Regions from separate parts of the Homo sapiens genome. Here regions 2, 3 and 4 are each linked to region 1. Evidence: fine-mapped expression QTL. A gene starts in region 1. Each other region holds a variant in brackets. All regions are shown on one strand. Distances are between the middles of the regions.

Region 1 (5,153 bases):
TGGCTGAATAGTATTCCATTGTATGTATATACCACATTTTCTTTATCCGCTCATCCACTGATGGACACTTAGGTTGATTCCATATCTCGGCTCTTATGAACAGTGCTGCAATAAACATGAGAGTGCAGATATCTCTGCAACATACTGATTTTACTTCCTTCAGATATATACCCAGGCGTGGGATTGTGGGATCATATGGCAGTTTTGTTTTTAATTTTTTGAGGAACCTCTATACTGTTTTCTATAATGGCTAGAGTAATTCAAATTCTTTTGTTTATTTATTATTTTTTTGAGACGGAGTCTCGCTGTGTCACCCAGGCTGGAGTGCAGTGGTGTGATCTCGGCTCACTGCAGCCTCTGCCTCCCAGGTTTAGCTGGGACTACAGGCATGTGCTGCCATGCCTGGCTAATTTTTTTGTATTTTTAGTAGATAAGGGGTTTCAGCATGTGGGCCAGGATGGTCTTGACCTCCTGACCTCGGGATCCGCCCACCTCAGCCTCCCAAAGTGCTGGGATTACAGGCGTGAGCCACTGCATCTGGCCAGTAATTTACATTCTTACCAACAGTGTATAAGTATTTCTCTCCACATATGCATGGGCATGTTATTTTTTGTCTTTTTGATAATAGCCATTCTAACAGGTATGAGGTGATATCTCATTGTGGTTTTGATTTGCATTTCCCCTATGATTATTTTTATTTATTTTTAATTTTTTAAAAATGTATGTATTTGTTTTTGAGAGTCTTGCTCTGTCACCCTGGCTGGAATGCAGTGGTGTGATCATGGCTCACTGCAGCCTCAAGCTCCTGGGCTCCAGTGATCCTCCCACCTCAGGCTCCTGAGTAGCTAGGACTATAGGTGTATGCCACATTGCCCAGCCAATTGTGATTTTTTGTAGAGACAGGGTTCTGCCATGTTGCCCATGGCTGGTCTTGAACTTCTGGGCTCAAGCAATCCACCTGCTTGGCCTCCCAAGGTGTGGGATTACAGGTGTGAGTCACTGTGCCTGGCTGAGCATTTTTTCATATATTTGTTAGTCATCATCATGTTTTCTTTTGAGAAATGTCCATTCAGGCCTTTTGCTCATTTTTAAATTGGATTTTTTTTTTTTTTTTTTTGGCTATTGAGTTGACTTCTTCATATACTCTGGATATTAACCCTTTGTCAGATATATAGTTTGCAAATATTTTCTCCCATTCTGCAGGCTGTCTTTTCACTCCGTTGATTATACATATTATGTATTTACTTATCTTTCATTGTCCACCTACCCCACTATATAGAGTTTAACTTGGATATTTTCCCAAAGTGTTAAAAAGAAAGATGGAAAATGGGAGCCAGAAATAGAAAGCCCACTGAGTACTACAGTTATCACTGAGAAAGAAGAATGAAAGTTATTACTGAAAAATAAAACTGAAGAAACCTCTCAGATGGGCCTGGTGCCTGGGTCCATGGGGACAAAAGTGGAACATCAGTCTAGCAGTCTAGTCTGGTGCTGGGGAAGACCTAAAGCCTGATTCTTCAGAGGCCATCATGGAGGCTGGGTTTGTGGGTGGTAGCCTGTAGGCTAGGCCCTCTGGGGTAGTTCTGGTGCCAGGGTCTACTGGGGTAGACCTGGACCTTGGGTTTGTTGGAGCAGGCCTGGAACCTGGGTTCACTGGAACCTGGGGCTGTAGGGACCAGCAGTCAGTGGACCTAAAGCCTATATCCACTGGTGCCAACCTGGAGACTGGGGCTGTAGGGCCCAACCTGGTGTTGGAGCCTGGTGCCTGAAACTATGGGGACCAACATGGGGAATGGAGTGGGCATAGATCTAGGCGCCATGGAGATTAGCCTAGCATTGGGGTGATCTTGGAGTCTCAGTGAAATGGCTCAGTGATCTTGGAGTCTCATTTTATAACAAACTAGAATTAAATACAGTACTTCTAATAATGACTTCTTCCAATTAGTCCAAACTGGGCTCCCACTTATTCCCTATCATACACATCTCCGTATCGTAAAACTATCCTCCCTGTTCGGCGCGTTGGCACATTCTGTTCCTCCGACTAGAATATTCCCTGTACTTATTCAAATCATACCTATGACCACTGCAGAACTCCAGGAACATGACCATCCCATCTAAACCCCTGCGTTCAGAGACTTGACCAAACTCTAGCAAGCTTTAGCAGCATAAGGCCCTGTGCCCAGGGCGACTGCCTCAGAAAGCTTAACTACGTGATGTAACCAGCACACAACTGATGATAGGTCTCTGACATCCCTTTCTTAGAACGTTTACTAAAGGGCTTGCAATTGTAAAGACTTATTTCTTGCCACTCAGAAGTTCTCTCTCAAGGACCAGAGAGTCATTCCTTTGAAATGTAATCGAGAAGGATAAAATCCTCCGTAGGAGGATAGAATCCTGCGGTAACTGTTAAAACGCGCGCACACACAAACACACAGCTGGCCTAATCACATTTACACTAACAACTCTGTAGGTTCACTTTCTCTACTGAGCGCCCGCATATCCCCTTTCTCCTTTTAAAACGTCCCTTTAAAAATGCCCAGATGATCTCTGCACGAATCGAAATAGAGCTCAGCTCTTTCCTGTCAGTAGTTAACTGAATGTTTTCACCGCTTTAACGTCCAGCTGCGCTTATCTTTGACATCGACTACCTAAGGTCTACCTTTAGTCCCACGACTCTGACAAAATGATCTCAATATTGGTGTAAAATCACCTCCCCTTTCAAGGGTCTTCCAAAGCACTTCCTGTCTGCGGCATACAAAATGTATTGGCACGGAATTTTAAGCTTACTGAGCTTTATAAACACGTCACATTCACACATTCAAGACACACACTGGATATTCGGATAAAAACAAACAAACAAAAAACTGGCTAAATACCCATTCCCCTCAATAACTTGGATAAGATACCTAAAAAAGGTCGACCTTCGGTACCTTTCTGTCTTCTCCCCTCTCGCTATTTGCCTACACTGGCTTCCTCACCTCCACTTTTTCTCACGTTTATCTGAGCGAAAACAAGCACGGTTCGGCAGCCTCCTTTCCCAGCCCTACCTTTGTGCTGCAAAAGCGAAAATTCAAAAGCCAAGTACAATAGGAGACCGCCCACCCTGGCTCCCTCGTGACACGAGGGAGCGCGAAGCGGAGGGCGCCTCGCGGCAGGAGCGGGATTTCCGGGGTCACGGGAACCGGCAGGGGAACGGGATAAAGTTCCCGGAGAAAGGAAAGGAGAGCGTGGGATAGTAAAAGAGAAGACGCGGAGAAGAGGAGAGGACCTACAAGAACGGAGGACAGGGGCGCACGATGGTCCCGGGGGGAGCGGAAACAAAGGCACGCAAAACGGAAAAGCGTGTGTAGGGGAGCGGAAAAGGAAGTCACCACCGTGGCCTGCGACGGTAAGTGGTCGTAAGGGTTGGTCTTAGCGCTTCAGTTTAGTGTTGTCAGTGGGAGAATCCTAAAATGTCGCCGTGGAATGGACTGTACCGCTCGCTTCTCCAAACGTGTCCCAGACGGCGAGCCTCCCCGGCTCCGCGGCTTGTCCCTTGCAAGCGCCGCGCAGGCCTGCCCCGCGCTGGACGTGGAGACGCGGTGCCGAGCGCCACGGGCCGGCTGTGCGCCGGCCGGGGAAAGAGGGCGAGGGGAAGAGATGAATCGGTCTTCCCAGAGCGCGCCGCGAGGTCGCGAGATTACACTTTAAAAAGCATGAGGAGGCTTGCTTTCTACATGCTGATTTAATTTCGGAATACATTCGAGGCCCTGTGCTAAGTTAGGTAATGTTCCCTATAATTGTCTTTTATGTATAAGTTGTCTTGCCTAACTAAAACTTTTCTTACTTGTATCGTGCAGCCAACTTTTCAAGAACGAAAGATGAGCAACTCCTTTCTGGTAGAGGTTCTTTCATTGGAGAATTTTTGAGCTACAATAATCCTTTTAACGCTGCGCACACATACAGGGATTACACGTGTAGGGGATTAAAAACACAGTTAAGTTTAGGTTGAAGGTGCTGTTAAGGACTTCAGGCAACATTAAATCAACACTCAGTTCTTTGCTCTGTTCCACATCTGGGCTCCTGTATAGCAGTTGTTGCTCTAGGTGCTAGAGGTATGCAGAGGAACTGGACAAGGGCAAGGAAAACAAAGGGCTCCTTCTTTAGAAGAGCTAGCATTCTCTTGGAACAGACAAGCTTGTGGTGAGAAGTATATTTGTGAAATCTACGAGGGGAGGGAGCAGCGCAGTAATAGAACGGGCGATCCTTTCTTGATTTTTTATTGGGTTCTGGCCTGAAAGGCGACTGTATAATCAGCTGGGATTCCTGCAATGATTAACATTCCAGGAAGGGAAGCCAGCCTGTGAAGAAGCATGGCATTGAAACAGGGTGAGTTGTGAGGATTATAAACAGGGTAGTTGGAGAGTTGATTTGTGGCCAGATTCTTAAGCCCCTGTTTAGTCTTAAGAATATTATCTTTAGGCACTGCAAATGCCCTCTTGCAGCTAAGACTAATGGGAAGAACTGGTTAAAAAACTAATTACAGCAAAGAGTGAGTGAGAGTGGTGATGAGAGATACAGATGTTCTGAGAGCAGACAATAAGGGGACTTTATGTAGTCCTATGTTAGAGGAGATGATTTGAAGTTACTCTGAGGAAGACAAAAATGTAACAGGTAGATCGCATATGCGAAAGCTTGAGATGGCGAAAAAATCAAAAGGATTTCAGGAACTGAAAGTTGTGCATTTTGGCTGTGTGAGGGAGAGAGTTGTGGGTGGCATGTAATGAACCTTGAAAGGTAGTTTATGTTATGACAGCCTACAACCGAATCAGAACTTTTACAAACAGGCGATATACAGACAGTCTGAAATCAAATGCTTCTGATTTCTATTACGTGCTCTAGGCTAATTGTTTTCTTTTTAAGTATGAGTTTGCGTTAGTCTTCTGGATTTAGTGATTACAGTATAAGGTGAAACAGGTAAAGGCTTTTAGAGAACATCTCACTTATTTCCTGTGCACTAAAGGGAAACAGATCACCTTTGCAGAACTTGAAAAAAATGGGAAGTGCGACCTTTGATCTCAGATGGACTTTCTTTCCTCTTTTCAGTGGCTTGGTAGTGAGCTTGTTCAGCTCCACTGAATCTTCTTTGTGGTGGGGCTGCAAGACATCCTGCA
Region 2 (5,153 bases), 27 kb after region 1:
CAGCTTGGGCAAAGTCAAACTAATTAGAAAGTGCTAGAGCCCAGATTCAAATGTAGGCAGATTGGCTTTAGAAACTGTGCTCCTAACCGTTTACTTCATACTGCTTCTAATAGACATTTTTAGCGTGCCTTTTGTCTTTTGAATGAAAATTATAATAGTACACAGGCTAATAATTTGCTTCACCTTTATTTCTACCAATTCTAGATACTTCATTGGAATTTTATGTAATCTAAATGTAGCAAGAGCAAATATGCATATTAAAATTACTTGATATAGGTAATAGAACAGATTTTATTGGAAAGGTTTTTAGCAGAGAATAAACCAGTTTACTTTGAAAGCTTTTTAGCTCCTCGTGCCTGTGTTAATTTTCTCATCACTTCGTGAGATACACTGATCTTCCTGATAACAGCTTTGGATTAGGAAATTCCTTCCACATTGGCTTTTACTTTTTCTTGACTGCATTTGTTTTATAAATCAACATAGTTCTCCATCTAAAATTCATCTAATTTTTTTAAGTTCAACAAACACTATGTGCAAAACATTTTACTAGCGTCTGAGGAGGGGGAAGGCATACTGTCACCATCAAGGGACTTACTGTCTAGACCTAGCAAATGCCACCTTCCCTTCTCCTCTCTAAAGCCTGTCTAACTACCCCCATCCCAATTGAAATGAATAATTTCTTCTTTGACACTCTTCTGAGTTTGTTCAAGCACTTTGTATAATACCTGTACTTTGATAGTTGTATTTCTGTATCTCTGGCAAAATTATTGAGAACTTCTTAGGTTCTCTAGTCCCCATCTTGTAGAGATGATGTGTCTGATAATGCATCTAAACACATATTCATACAACACAATTTATAAGTACTATAATTAAGGCATAAAAATAAAAATACTGTTGAAACACAAAAGAGAAAATTGTTATTGTGAGATTTAGAAAATCTTGATGGAAAAATATTATATGATCTGGGCATTCCTTGAAATAGGTAGAGAGAAGGACAGCCTATTACAACTAGTAGGAATGATAAAAGCAAAGACACAGGAGCCACAATAAGTGTAAGGTGTTAGAGGGATGGCAAATAGTTTGTGTGGTGAAATTAGGATGCTTGGAGGAGGGGTATGGTAATCAATAAAGTTGATAAGATAGTTTGGGATCAAGTGGCCTTGCCAAGAAATTTAGGTTTTATTCTATAAGACATCATCATCCTACAGGAAGGTTTATCAGGTAGCAGGATGGAAGATTATATTTAAGAGGAAAAAGAAATTAAATACAGAAATCAGTTAGGAAGCAAAGCTGTTGTCTCCAGCCATACCACCCTGAATGCACCCAATCTTGCCGATCTCAGAAGTTAATCAGTGTTGGGTCTGATTAGTCCTTGGGTGGGAGAAAGCAAAGCCATCTTACTGTACTAATCAAGGCTTGAGTAACACAGGTATGAACTAATGCAGCAGCAGCAAAAATATAAAAGAAGGGATTGATATTTGAAATATTTCTAAGGTAGATCCGAGGGGAAGTACTTGGTAACTAACTGAGTGTGGGAGAATTGTGAAACGGGAAAGTCAAACATAGTACCAAAAATCTGAGCCTTATTGACCGCTAGCTCAGAACTCTTACACTAACTTTTTCCACTAACACAGAACACTTATGCAATCTTTTATAGAGTTTCTAGGTATATTTTCATCTTTCTAAACATCCTTTAAGTCAAATAGTGCAATTTTTTTTAATTTCTCATTTCTTATGAATGAGGAAACTGAATTACGTAGTCATGACTTGCTCAATTTCATGTTGTTATTAAGTGGCAGCACTAGGATTCAAAGTCAGTTCTTTTACTTTCAGTTGGTTTTGCCGTGCTGAGTTTGAGGTGCTATCAGAATGTGAAAATGTCTAGTAGATTTTAGCACTTTATATGGAAGTAGATGAGACTTCCAAAAAAAAGAAATTATAAATAAAGAACAGAGAAAATCATGGATTAGAATTTTGAAACTGCATGGATTTAGGGGATTAGCTGGATAAGAAGAGCCAAGGAAGAAGACTGGAAAAGAACAAACAAAGAAATAAGAGAACCAGG[T/A]GTGTAAATGTTGCTAGAAAGTGAGAGCAAATATGAGAATGAAGAAACTGATTAAAGAAAGATACTACGTGTTATGGAGAGAGAAAAGGTGAATAAGGAAAAGTCATTTAATTTGACAAGTAGGAGATTATTAAAAGCTTTTGAGGAGAGATTTTGGGATAAGGCAGAGGGCCAGATTACACTGGATTGAAGAAAGTATGTGAGCTAAAAAAAAGACAAGGCAATGAGTTTGGACTACTCTTAGGAAATTTGTTTGTGAAAATTATAAGTTGTGGCAATACCAAGATAAAGCCTTAGAAATATTTTTTTAAAAATCAAAGCTTAACATAACTTTTCCCTTCTTTCCCTTCTTCTCTTATATGTTTATCATCTTAAGGATAACAGATGGGTATATCTTATGCCTTTCCCCTGTCATTACCCTGAGTAGAACTCCATAGTGATCTAGGGTATGTGATCTGTCTCTTATCCCTACATCTTTGCTAATACCTCATGCAAAGCTGAGCTCAAGGAGCCCTAGGATATCAACAGTCAAATACAGCATTATTTGCATTTCAGACAACATCAAAGAGTTTTAAATGGAAATGTCATTGTTTAAAAAAGACATATTTTTGGCTTCATTACTTTCTAAAACCTTAATTTAAAAAATTTAATGTAATATATTTGCATTATACCTTTGTGTTTCTGCTTATTTTTATTTAAAGGATGGAATGGCCGTATGCATGTTCATGCAAAACACCTTAACAAGATTTATGAGGTAATGCAGCCTTCTTTTTAAAATATGATTTCTAAAAGACCAAAAATAGCTTTTTGCTATTCCATTATTTGTACTAGTTAAGAAATAATAGCTAATTTTCAAATTACATCTATTCTAATGATGTACTATTTTTTTGTGCCGTAGAGGATAATCATTTAATTACATGTTAATGAAGTATATACATATGTATTTTAAAAATAAGAGAAATGAAAGATAAGAAAAATTTAAGACATATCCCCTAAAGAGCTTATATAACTAGCTGTATTTAGGAATAGATACTGGGAAAGTTAAATACTGGTATTAGAGCAGAATAATAAAGACACTGATCAAGACATGACACATAAAGTTTACCTAATATTCCAAATTAGTAGAATGTGTGGTGAAGTGGTCTGTATCCAGAGGAGATGAGAAAAAGAACTATGGATTGGAAAGTTTTTACAGCTTTCTGAGGAATATGAATTGACTTTGCACCTAGGTAAAGAAGCAAAGAGGAAAAATTCTTCTTGGCCTATCAAGGTATGTTTGAGGTTACAAACTGACATGTTTTGGTTGATTAGCTTTCTACTTTCACATTCCGAATGTAGACAAATTTAAAATTATGAAAAGTAAGGAAATTCTTATTTAAGCAAGGTTATTAATTGGACATTACTGTATTTTTGGTACCTATTGTATCTGAGAGTCTAGAGAGAGTAATAGAATCATAACATTACTATTCTAAAATAGTATCTTCATTGTTTAAACCCTATTCACCTCCTTTTCCTATTGCATTTGACTTTTTCATAGATAAATCTGAAGTTATTATTTTTTTAAATAATCCTTTCTACATGGGAGCAGTGTATATTAGGAAATTTTCAATTACTTTAGACCTGCACCTTTGCATTGTAGGTCAGAACCTACAAAAATTCCATCTTGGAAAACATTTTAGATTTACCTTGTATTCACACACCCCTGCAAAGTGGGTCTTTGCAAACAGGAAAGGTAAAAGATTTATTTTTACTGCAAAATCATGCCTTTATATAGGATTAGTCTGTGGATTATTTCAGGCAACAATGAGTAGATTTTTGAAGGAAACTTCATAACACAGTTTTGGAGCCCTATCTTCTGTAACACATTTCCAACCTTTGGAAATAGCCTTGATTTTCCAACTTTTAACCTGATACCAACAAAAATGGACAAAGATAATATCACATGGAATTATTCTGAAGAGCCAGCTGCTGAGAAGTTCCAGGAGCTGTAAATTAGACAAAAGCATCCATTTATTTGGGAGTAAGTTACAATATGGCTATAGCTTAAAAATATATAATGATTCAGGGAGGTATTTTAATGAACTTATGTGGCATTTATTGTGAACTATTGTATGTTTAGTATTACACTGTTTTTCTTCTCATGATGTAAAGGTTCAAGCTTCTGCTATCCTTTGATGTGTGTTTGTTTTTATGAAGACAGTGCAATAATTTTGTTTCCACTGCATTTTAAGATTTTTTAAAAAATAACATTTGTAAATGAATATTGAAATTAAAAATAGTAACATCAGTTTTTTCTTCAATATACAGACTTCCTTTAATAAGTGTTGCGCTGGTTCAAGGTTGGGCATTGGGTGGAGGAGCAGAATTTACTACAGCATGTGATTTCAGGTAGGATGAAAATTTCATTAATTTCTTGCACAAATATAATTAACTTGCTCAAATTCATTTTTGCCTTAATATCAATATTTTATATATTCTTAAATAGGATAAACCTATTTTCTTTTCTGAATGTTTTCTTTTTGTCAGTCATTAAAGTAGATAATTTTAATCTAATAAAATTTCATGATCACTTCATTACTATGCATTTTCAAAAAATTAACAAAACACATGGTTTTGAGATTTTGAATAGAGCAAATCCATATTAGCAAAACTCCTGGAAGGAAAGCTAAGGAAATATATGAAACTTAAAAATCCAAAAGAATTATACAAACAAAGGTAAGCAACATTAAAAAAGAAAAATAGAATGCAGAAAGAGAGACTGCTGTAGCTGTCTTCTCACCAATAAAAAGAGATTTTCTGAGATCCCTTTGTCTTCTTTTTGCTGTGATTTATAGCAACTTTGTGGGACTTTCAGGAAGATTAGGGACTAAAAATAGAGAAAGTTCTTTGGGACCAATAGCTCTTCACTCCCAATAATTATTCTCAGTATTTGATAGCTATATTATATAGAAATGACATTTTATAAAATCTAATGCTTTAGACATGGTTTAAACTGCTTTCTCAGTACCATTCCCAAGGCCTACTAACACAGCTAGCTATAAGGAGACCAATACAATGCTCTGTGAGTTATCTGTACAGGTTCACATAC
Region 3 (5,153 bases), 25 kb before region 1:
TTGGAGGCAAATTTATGCCTATAAACATCTATATTTGAAAATTAAGAAAGATTTGAAATTCATAATCACCTTCAGATATTAAAAAGTAAATTTAAAGCAAGCAGAAGAAAAAAAGATTGAATCAGAAATTAATTAAATAGACAATTAATGAAAATTAATGAAACCCAAATGTAGCTTTTTGAAAAGATCAACAAAATTGACAAAACTTTATCTAAACTGACCAAAAGAAAAAGAGAGAAAACTCAAGTTATCAAAATTCAGAATTGTCTTAGTTTGTTTGGGTTGCTCTAAAAAACTACCATAGACTGCATATCTTAAAAACAACAGAAATGTATTCCTCACAGTTTTGGAGACAAGGAAACCTAATATCAAGACAGGCAGATTTAGTGTTTGGTGAGGACCTATTTTCTGGTTCATGGATAGTACTTTCTTGCTGTGCCCTTATATGCTGAAAATGGGAAACCAGCTCTCTGGAACCTTTCTTATAAGTGCACTAAACCCATCCTGACCTCATGATCTAATCATCTCCCTAAGGCCTTACATCCTAACACTATTACGTTAGTGATCAGGTTTTCAACATACAAATTTTGGAAAGACACAAGCATTCAGACCACAGCAGGAATAAAAGAGATAATATTGCTAGCAACATTACAGAACTAAAAAGGATTATAAGGAAATACTACTGCAATTGACTTGATGTTTATGTTCCCCATGATTTATATGCTGAAATCCTAACCCCCAAAGTCATGGCATATACATTATTCTCAACTTTACATGGAACATTCTCCAGGGTAGGTCATATGTTAGGCCACAAAACATGTCTTAACAAATTTAGGAAGCTATAGATCATACAGAGTATCTTTTCTAGTAAAAATAGTATACAACTAGAAATCAATAATAGGAAGAACTGTGGAAACTTTACAAATACATGGATATCAAACAATGTGTCTCTGAATAACCAATGAGTCAATGAAGAAATTAAAAGTGAAATTAAAAAATTTTATGAGACAAACAAAAATAGAAACAACACACATACCAAAATCTATGGGGTACAGCGAAAGCAGTTCTAAGATAGAACTTTACAGCAATAAACACCTACATCAAAAATGAAGAATGATCTCAAATAAATGACCTAACATTGCACAGATGGAACAAGAAAAGCTAAAACCTAAAAAAGCAGAAGAAAAAGATAATAATAAAGATTGGAGCAGAAATAAATAGAGACTAAAGAAACAAACTTCAACATCCTTCAAGATAAACATAACCTCTCAACAAATTATGTGTATAGAAGTTTCATAGCTCAATGCAATAAAGGCCATATATGAAAAACCCATAGCTAACATCCTACTGAATAGAGAAAAGATAAAAGCTTTTTCTCTAAGATCTGGAGAAAGACAAGAATGCACACTTTCATCACTTCTATTCAACATAATATTGGAAGTCATAGCCATAGACATTACACAAAAGAAAAAAGTCTTCCAAATTGGAAGGGAGGAAGTCAAATTGTCTGTTTGCAGACAATATGATCTTATGTAGAGATAAACCAAAAGACTCTACCAAAAACTGTTAGAACTAATAAGAGAATTCACTAAAGTTGCAGGGTACAAAGTAAATATGCAAAAATCAATAGCATTTTTATACCTTAATAGTGAACAATCTGAAAAAGAAATAAAACAACTCCATTTATAATAGCTACAAAAATCTATAAGATACCTAGGAATAAAGTTAACCAGAGAGGTAAAAACTATAGAATACTGATGAAAGAAATTGAAGAGAACACAAATAAATAGAAAGATAGCCATGTTCATAGATTGGAAGAATTCATATTGTTAAAATGTCCATATTATACCAAAGTATGTAGAGATTCGCTGTAATCTCTGTGAAATTTCCAATGATATCCTTCACAGAAATAGAAAAGAAATCCTGAAATTCATATAGAATGACAAAAAACTCTGAATAACCAAACTAATCTTGAGCAAAAAAAGCCCCACAACAACAAAGCTGGAGGCATGATACTGCCTAACTTCAAAATATATTACAAGCCTATGGTAACCAAAACAGCATGTATTGGCAGAAAAACAGGCATTAAAAAAACAGTGGAACAGAATACAGAGCCCAGAAATAAATCCACACATCTACAGCCCACTGATTTTGGACAAAGGTGCCAAGAACACACACTGGGAAAAGGACAATCTCTTTAATAAATGGTGCTGAGGAAACTGGATATCCATATGCAGAAGAATACTGTACCCCTATCTTTCACCATACAAAAATCAACTCAAAATGAATTAAAAACTTAAATATAAGACCCAAGACTATGAAACTAC[A/G]GAAGAAAACATAGAGAAAATGCTTCATGACATTGGACTAGGCAAGGATTTTTTTGATAAGACCTCAAAACACAGGCAACAAAACCAAACATAGACAAATGAGATACGCCAAACTAAAAAGCTTCTGCACAGCAAAGAAAACAATCAGCAGAGTGAAGAGGCAACCTACAGGATGGGAGAAAATATTTGATACTATACATTGACAAGGCATTACTATTCAGAATATATAATGACCTTAAATCAACAAGCAAAAAATAAACCTCATTCAAAAAATGGCCGAAAGACCTTAACAGGCATTTTCCAAAAGAAGACATACAAATGGCCAACAGACATATTAAAAAATGCTACCTATCACTTATCATCCGGGATAATGACCCTGGTCACTAATGACCATAGAAATGCAAATAAAAACAATGAGACATCCCCTCACTCCAGTTAGAATGGCTGTTATAAAAAAGACAACAGATAACAAGTGTTAGAAATTACGTGGAGAAAAGAGAACCCTTAATACACTGTTGGTGGGAATGTAAATTAGTATAGCCATTATGGGAAACAGTATGGAGCTTCCTGAAAAATTAAAAATAGAACTATCATATGATCCAACAATCCCACTATTGGCTATATATCTGAAGGAAATGAAATCAGTATGTCGAAGAGACATCTGAACTCTCATGTTTATTGCATTAATTGGCTATTCACAATAGCCAAGATATGGAATCAGTCTAAGTGTCCAACAATGGGTGAATGGATAAAGAAAATGTGGTATAATGTAATGGAATACTATTCAGCCATAAAAAGGAAGGAAATCTTGTCATTTGTTACAACATGGATAAACTTGGAGACATTATGTTCAGTGAAATAAGCCAGGCACAGAAAGACAAATACCACATGTTCTTACTCATATGCATAATCTAAATATGTTAATCTCATAGAAGTAGTGAACAGAACAATGGTCACCAGAAACTGGGGAGAGTAGAGGTAAGGGGGAAAGGGGAGAGGATGGTCAACAAGTACTAAGTTACAATTAGAAAGGAGGAAAAAGTTCCAGTGTCCTATAGCACAGTAGGGTGACTATAATCAACAAAAAAGTATTGTATATCTCAAAAGAGCAAGAAGAGAGGATTTTGCATGTTCCTACCAAAAATAAATGATAAATATTTGAGGTGATGAGTATGCTAATTACCTTTATTTGATCACTGTACAATGTATACAGGTATCAAAACATCACATTTTACCACATAAATAGGTACTATCATTATGTGTCTATTAAAAATAAAAAATTTTTTAAAGTGGTTCTGGGATGGTGAGATATCTACATGCAAAAGAGTGAATGTAGGCCCCTACATCATACCACATACAAACATGTACTCAAAATGAATCGAAGTCCTAAATGTAAGAGCTAAAGGTATAAAACTGTTAGAAGAAAATATAACAATAAATCTTCATGACCTTGTAGTAGGTAACAGTTTCTTAGATGTGACACTAAAAGCTCAAGCAACAAAAGAAAAACAGATAAATTGGACTTAATCATAATGTAAAATATTTGTGTTCCAAAAGACACCAGCAAGAAAGTAAAAAGACAACCATGTAATGTGAAAAAAATATTTACCAGTCATATATCTGAGAAGAGATTCGTATCTAGAATATAAAAAGAACCTTCACAAGTCAATAATTAAAATATAAATTACATAATTTAAAAGATAGGCAAAAGATGTAAGTAAACATGTCTCCAAATAAGATATACGAATGGCCAATAAATACATTAAAAGATGCCAAAATCAATTAACTATAAAGAAAACACAAATGAAAACCACAATGAGATACCTCTTCGCACTCCCTAACATGGCTATAGTACAAAAGACTGAAATATCAAGTGTTGGAGAAGTTGTGGACAAATTGAAACACTGTTGGTGGAAATGTAAAATGGTACAGCCACTTTGCAAAACTGTTTGGTAGTCCCTCAAAAGGTTAAATATAGAGTTACCATATGACTCAGCAATTCCACTCTTAGGTTTGTACCCAAAAGATATGAAAGCTTATGTCCACACAAAAACTTATCCACAAATGCTGATAGGAGCACTTTATTTGTAACAGCTAAAAAGTGGAACAGTGCAAATACCTATCAGTTGATAAATGGATAAATAAAATATGATTTAGCCACAAATGGGATATTATTTGCCAATTAGAAGGAATGAAGTACTGATACATGCTATGGCTTAAATGAACCTTAAAAATGAGCTAGGAGGCAGGACTCAACACAGGGCTCAGACATTGGACCAAATTGAGTACTAGCTAAAACAGGTCTGGGGCAGAAGCACCTCCCCATAAGACATGCCCACTAATGTGCCATGTCAGTTTACCATTGCCATGGCAACAAGTTAACATTCCTTTCCATAGCAATGACCTGACAACCCAGAAGTTACCTCTCTCATGGTATAAATTTCTGCATAAACCACCCCTTAATTTTAATATAATTAACAGTGGGTATAAATATGACTGCAAAACTGCCTCTGAGCTGTTATTCTGGGAGTATGGAGTAGCCCTGCTCTGCAAGGAGCAGTACTTCTGCTGCTGCTGTATGCTGCCACTTTAATAAAAGTTGCTGTTTAATACCACTGACTCACCCTTGAATTATTTCCTGGGCTAAGCCAAGAACCCTCCCGGGCTAAGACTGAATTTTGGGGCTTGCCTGTCTTGCATCATCTGGTGACCAGCGAAGGGAGGAAGACAGTGGAGACGGCAGTGATTGGTGGAAATGGCAGTGATCGATTGGTGGAGACAGTGAGACCTGGATGGTGAGACAGTACAGACAGAGAGGCAGCGACT
Region 4 (5,153 bases), 31 kb before region 1:
TCTACCTATTTGGCCTAATTCCATGCTTGTACATTGGAGTGCTTCCCTCCATTCCAGCACCTTTGAATCTCTAGACTGTTTAACCTTACACCAACTTACAAAATCACTTCATAAATCTTAATTCTCATACTCACAATCTTCACTTCTTTTTCTTAGAATGCCTAATGTTACTTTATGTCACAAGACAAAAAGTGCTGATTGGACTAGAAGAATTTCTGCCATTTTTACCTCTATTCCAACAATCTTTCAATTCATTTCTTATTGACCCATGACCATATTCCTCCAAGAATGCTTAGAAAGGATTTTTCTCTCCTCTCCAGTCTCCCAGTCCCACTGTGGCCTCTTTCAGGCCCAGTGGAAGCTTTTCCATTTCATTTCTACGGTCATAACCAATAAACATAGGCTATTCATCATTGGGGCATCTTTATGAAGAAAATATGTCTACTGACACCTCTTCTTTGTTCTGCTGTACATAATGGTGATCAGGACTCAGGGTCATTAGTGAGTGAGGGGAAGAGGAGGACATGGGCTGGTTTGTTTGAAAAATTCCCCAGTGTAGCAGGCACTGTTGACACACTGTCCAGAACCATACCTTCCGTGCAAGCCAGCAGGTTTTCTGACAGCTAGTTACTGCATTTGCATCAGAGAGCTGCCCTCAGACTTGGCTGGAGAACATGGCAAGCCAGAAGTACCCACAAATTGATGGTCTCCAGGAACAGACCTGAACCAGTGACTCACTTGTATGGGGTCACAACACAGCTGTCATCATGCCCTCAATAGAATCAGCCTTTTACACATGTGTTCCATGGCGTTCCAGAGCTTCACCATGGGATTAGGCTCCATTTGCCCATTGCAGTAGCTTGTTTTGTGACACTGCCTTTGCTACAGGAAAGCCTTCCTGATCCAGACCCCAAGAGAGGGTTCTTGGATATCACGCAAGAAAGAATTCAAGGTGAGTCCATAAAGTAAAGTGAAAACAAGTTTATTAAGAAAGTAAAGGAGGTCGGGCACTGTGGCTCAGGCCTGTAATCCCAGCACTTTGGGAGGCCGAGTTAGGCAGATCACCTGAGATCAGGAGTTCGAGACCAGCCTGGCCAACATGGTGAAACCCTGTCTCTACTAAAAATACAAAAATTAGCCCAAGGGCATCTTAAATTTAAAAAGGCAATCAGCCAGGAATTAAAGAAGGCTAACAGCTGGGTGTGATGAAGGAAAGAGTCAAAGAGAGCACTGCTAAAGCTGCTCTCATCTCAGCTGAATGTTCCCATGCCCAAGGTTGTGCCCTCTAAGGAGCAACATCAAAGGCTTCCCAGTAAAATAGTGCCATCAGAAGCTAAATGAAAAAACAGGCAAATAATAACAAGCACCATGAAATGAGGGACAATTATATCCACAATTGCTACAATATATTATTTAAGTGTCTAGTTTTCAGAAAGAAAAAAAAGAGACATGAAAAGCAACAAAAATGTGTGACACACACACACAGGGCCGGGCCTGGTGGCTCACGCCTGTAATCCCAGGACTTTGGGAGGCTGAGGCAGTCGGATCATGAGGTCAGGAGATCGAGACCATCCTGGCTAACACGGCGAAACCCTGTCTCTACTAAAAATACAAAAAAAAATTAGTCAGGCATGGTGGCGAGTGCCTGTAGTCCCAGTTACTTGGGCTGAGGCAGGAGAATGGCATGAACCTAGGAGGCAGAGCTTGCAGTGAGCCGAGATTGTGCCACTGCACTCCAGCCTGTGCGACAGAGCAAGACTCCATTTCAAAAAAAAAAAAAAAGAAAAGAAATGTATGATGGTAATATCTCATTAAAGAGAGAATATATTAAAAATAAATTATCTAAAAAAAAAAAAAAAAAAAAAAGGACCAGGCCAGACACAGTGGCTCATGCCTGTAATCTCAGCACTTTCAGAGGCCCAGGTGGGCAGATCACCTGAGGTCAAGAGTTCGAGACCAGCCAGACCAACACAGAGTAACTCAGTCTCTACTAAAAATATAAAATTAGCCCGGCATGGTGGCGCATGCCTGTAATCCCAGCTGCTTGGGAGGCTGGGGCAGAAGAATTGCTTGAACCTGGGAGGCGGAGTTTGCAGTGAGCCGAGATCACACCATTGTACTCCAGCCTGGGCAACAAGAGCAAAACTCCATCTCAAGAAAAAAAAAAAAAAGACCAAATAGAAATCCTGAAGTTGAAAGGTTGAAAGTACTGACTGGAATCAAAATTTAAAAATTACTATAGGGCTCAACTACAGATTTGAACTGGCAGAAGAAGAAATGAGCAAACCTGAAGCATGAAGACAGGCTAATAGAGAATAATACC[CA/A]AAAAGCAGAAAGAAAAAAAGAATAAAGAAAAATAAAAAGAGTCCCAGAGGAATGTGTGACACTAAGAAACTCACCAACATACATATAATAGGATTACCAGAAGAGTAGAAAAAAACTATTCAAAGAAATAATAACTAAAAATTTCCCAAATTTGAGGAAAAACAATATATATATATCCAAGAGGGTTAACAAGCTCCAAGTAGGAAAAGCAGAGCGCTATACATAGAAACATCATAGTTAAAGGGTTGAAAGTCAAAGACAAAAAGAACTTATTTTTATTTATTTATTTATTTATTTATTTTTTGAGATGGAGTCTTGTGCTGTCGCCTGGGCTGGAGTGCAATGGCGCAATCTCGGCTCACTCCAACCTCCACCTCCCGGGTTCAAGGGATTCTCCTGCCTCAGCCTCCCAAGTAGCTGGGATTACAGGTGCCCACCACCACGCCCAGCTAATTTTTTGTATTTTTAGTAGAGACGGGGTTTCACTATGTTGGACAGGCTGGTCTTGAACTCCTGACCTTGTGATCCACCCACCTCATCCTCCCAAAGTGCTGGGATTACAGGCGTGAGCCACTGCGCCTGGCCCAAAAAGAACATCTTAAAAGCGGCACAACGAAGATGAAACAAGGACAATCCCAGACAAACAAAAACTGACAGAATTGTTAGTGATCCTATCTTATAAGAAATACTAATGTAACTGCCCAAAGGGTTCCTCCTGCCTCCTGCACAAAGACAGACCATGGCATTGCAGTAAAGAAAGAGTTTAATTAGACATCAGGCCAGCCACACCACACAGAAGATGGAGTTAGTACTGCAATAATTCTCCCTAAAGCTTCTAAATTAGGGGTTTTGCATAGGCAGTTTGGGTGAAGGGGTGGAGGTCGCTAGGCTTGGTGCTGATTGGTTGGGGTGGAGATGAAATCAAAGGGGGTCAAAGCTGTCCTCTTGTACTGAATAAATTCTGGGTGGGGCCACAGGAGCAGGGTTGGAGGGTCCAGGTAGTGTTAGACGTGAAAAAAAAACTGAAAAGATATCTCAAAAGGCCAATCGGCAATAGTAGTATTATCTGCAGGAATAGTTGGCAATCTATGTCTACACCTTAGCAGAATCAGTCTCCTCTCTGCCCCCTAGCCTGATGGCCTTCCATTAACTTTATAAAAGCAGATGATTTTGGGGGAAGGTCTGTTATTTAAACAATCTTCTGGCCAGGCACGATGGCTCACAGCTGTAATCCTAGCACTTTGGGAGGCCGAGGCGGGTGGATCATGAGGTCAGGAGTTCAAGACCACCCTGGCCAAGATGGTGAAACCCCGTCTCTACTGAAAATACAAAAATTAACTGGGCATGGTCTCAAAAACAAAACAACACAAACAAACAACCTTCCAAAGTTAGTTCAGACTAAGTTAGCTCAGACGAAGCCCAGGAATGATTGAGGCAGCTTGAAAGCAAAGGCAAGAGGACGGGTGGGCTAGATCAGGTCTTTTTCACTGTCTAATTTTGCCGCTGATATAATTTTTGCAAAGGGGGTTCACTAAGGGAACTTCCTCAGGATGAAAGCAAGTGGCCTCAAACCATATTTTATAAGAAGCAAAATAGAGGCCAGGCACAGTAGCTCATGCCTGTAATCTCAGCACTTGGGAGACTGAGGCGGGCAGATCACGAGGTCGGTAGTTCGAGACCAGCCTGGCCAATATGGTGAAACCCTGTCTCTACTAAAAATACAAAATTTAGCCGGGCATGACGGCATGTGCCGGTAGTCCCAGCTACTTGGGAGGCTGAGGCAGCATAATCGCTTGAACCCGGGAGGCAAAGGTTGCAGTGAGCCAAGATCATGCCACTGACTTCAGCCTGGGTGACAGAGCAAGACTCCATCTAAAAAAAAAAAAAAAAAAAAAAGGAAAAAAAAAGGAAGCAAAATAGAGAAAAAGAGCATGGTTAAAGGTAATTATGTAGTAGTAAAGATAGTATAAATGCATATTAATTCTTCTCTTAATTGATCTACAAAACAAATGAATAAAACAGTATGCTTATAATTTCATTGTTAGGCCTATAACACATATAAACTAATAATATTACAAAGAATATGGGTGTGAGCAAAGCAGTATTGGAGTAAGGATGTGATACCAGATGATAACCCAAATCTACAAGATAAACAAAGAGAAGAAATGCTAAATAAGATGGTTAATACGACAAAAACTATAAGCATTTGCTCTCTTCTGCTCTCTGATTCTTTAAAAGACATACAATTATATAAATTAATACTTATAACAATGTATTGCTGCATTTGTAACATGCTTAAATGCAATATATGTAATGATAACTGCAGCAAAAGGCAGAAAAAGAAAAACTATGCAGGGGTAAATTTCCATATCTTACTGGACTTGTCAGTAAAACTCTGTAGTAGGTTCTGATAAGTTAAGATGCATGTGACAAGTCTTAGAGCAACCACGAAAAAACAAAAAACTTAAAAAAATTGTTAAAGAAATAAAAAGTATAACACTAGACAATATTTATTAATACAAAAGCAAACAACAAAGGAACTAAAAGACATGAGACATAGAAAACAAAAAGTGGAAGAATTAAATCTGTTTTACCAATAATAACACTAAATGTAAGTAAATTAAATAACTCAATAAGGCTGGGCATGGTGGCTGATGCCTGTAATCCCAGCACTTTGGGAGGCCAAGGTGGGTGGATCACAAAGCCAGGAGACAGAGACCATCCTGGCCAACATGGTGAAACCCCATCTCTACTAAAAATACAAAAATTAGCCAGGTGTGGTGGCATGTGCCTGTAGTTCCGGCTACTCAGGAGGCTGAGGCAGGAGA

Evidence for each region. PIP is the estimated chance that this variant, and not a neighbour inherited with it, causes the effect.
Region 2: its variant is the best candidate, but not a certain one, in a credible set for the expression of ECHDC1 in whole blood (INTERVAL, PIP 0.55).
Region 3: its variant is the best candidate, but not a certain one, in a credible set for the expression of ECHDC1 in whole blood (INTERVAL, PIP 0.50).
Region 4: its variant is the best candidate, but not a certain one, in a credible set for the expression of ECHDC1 in whole blood (INTERVAL, PIP 0.50).

Annotation. Positions count from the first base shown.
Region 1 is chr6:127,341,571-127,346,723 of GRCh38, reverse strand. ECHDC1 (ethylmalonyl-CoA decarboxylase 1) reads left to right here and starts at 3,115. Exons shown (of 6, transcript NM_001002030.2): 1 at 3,115-3,388. It overlaps LOC105377994 (a long non-coding RNA gene), which reads right to left. Exons shown (of 4, transcript XR_001744334.2): 4 at 5,065-5,153. RefSeq lists enhancers at 1,209-2,082, 2,957-3,830.
Region 2 is chr6:127,314,116-127,319,268 of GRCh38, reverse strand. It overlaps ECHDC1 (ethylmalonyl-CoA decarboxylase 1), which reads left to right. Exons shown (of 6, transcript NM_001002030.2): 4 at 2,767-2,819; 5 at 4,373-4,453. It overlaps LOC105377994 (a long non-coding RNA gene), which reads right to left and starts at 2,284. Exons shown (of 4, transcript XR_001744334.2): 1 at 1-2,284. It also overlaps the pseudogene RNA5SP217. The variant T/A (reference allele first, on the strand shown) is at 2,066.
Region 3 is chr6:127,366,370-127,371,522 of GRCh38, reverse strand. No RefSeq gene overlaps it. Among named protein-coding and RNA genes, the nearest start is that of ECHDC1, 25 kb to the right of the region's middle. The variant A/G (reference allele first, on the strand shown) is at 2,328.
Region 4 is chr6:127,372,463-127,377,615 of GRCh38, reverse strand. No RefSeq gene overlaps it. Among named protein-coding and RNA genes, the nearest start is that of ECHDC1, 31 kb to the right of the region's middle. The variant CA/A (reference allele first, on the strand shown) is at 2,324.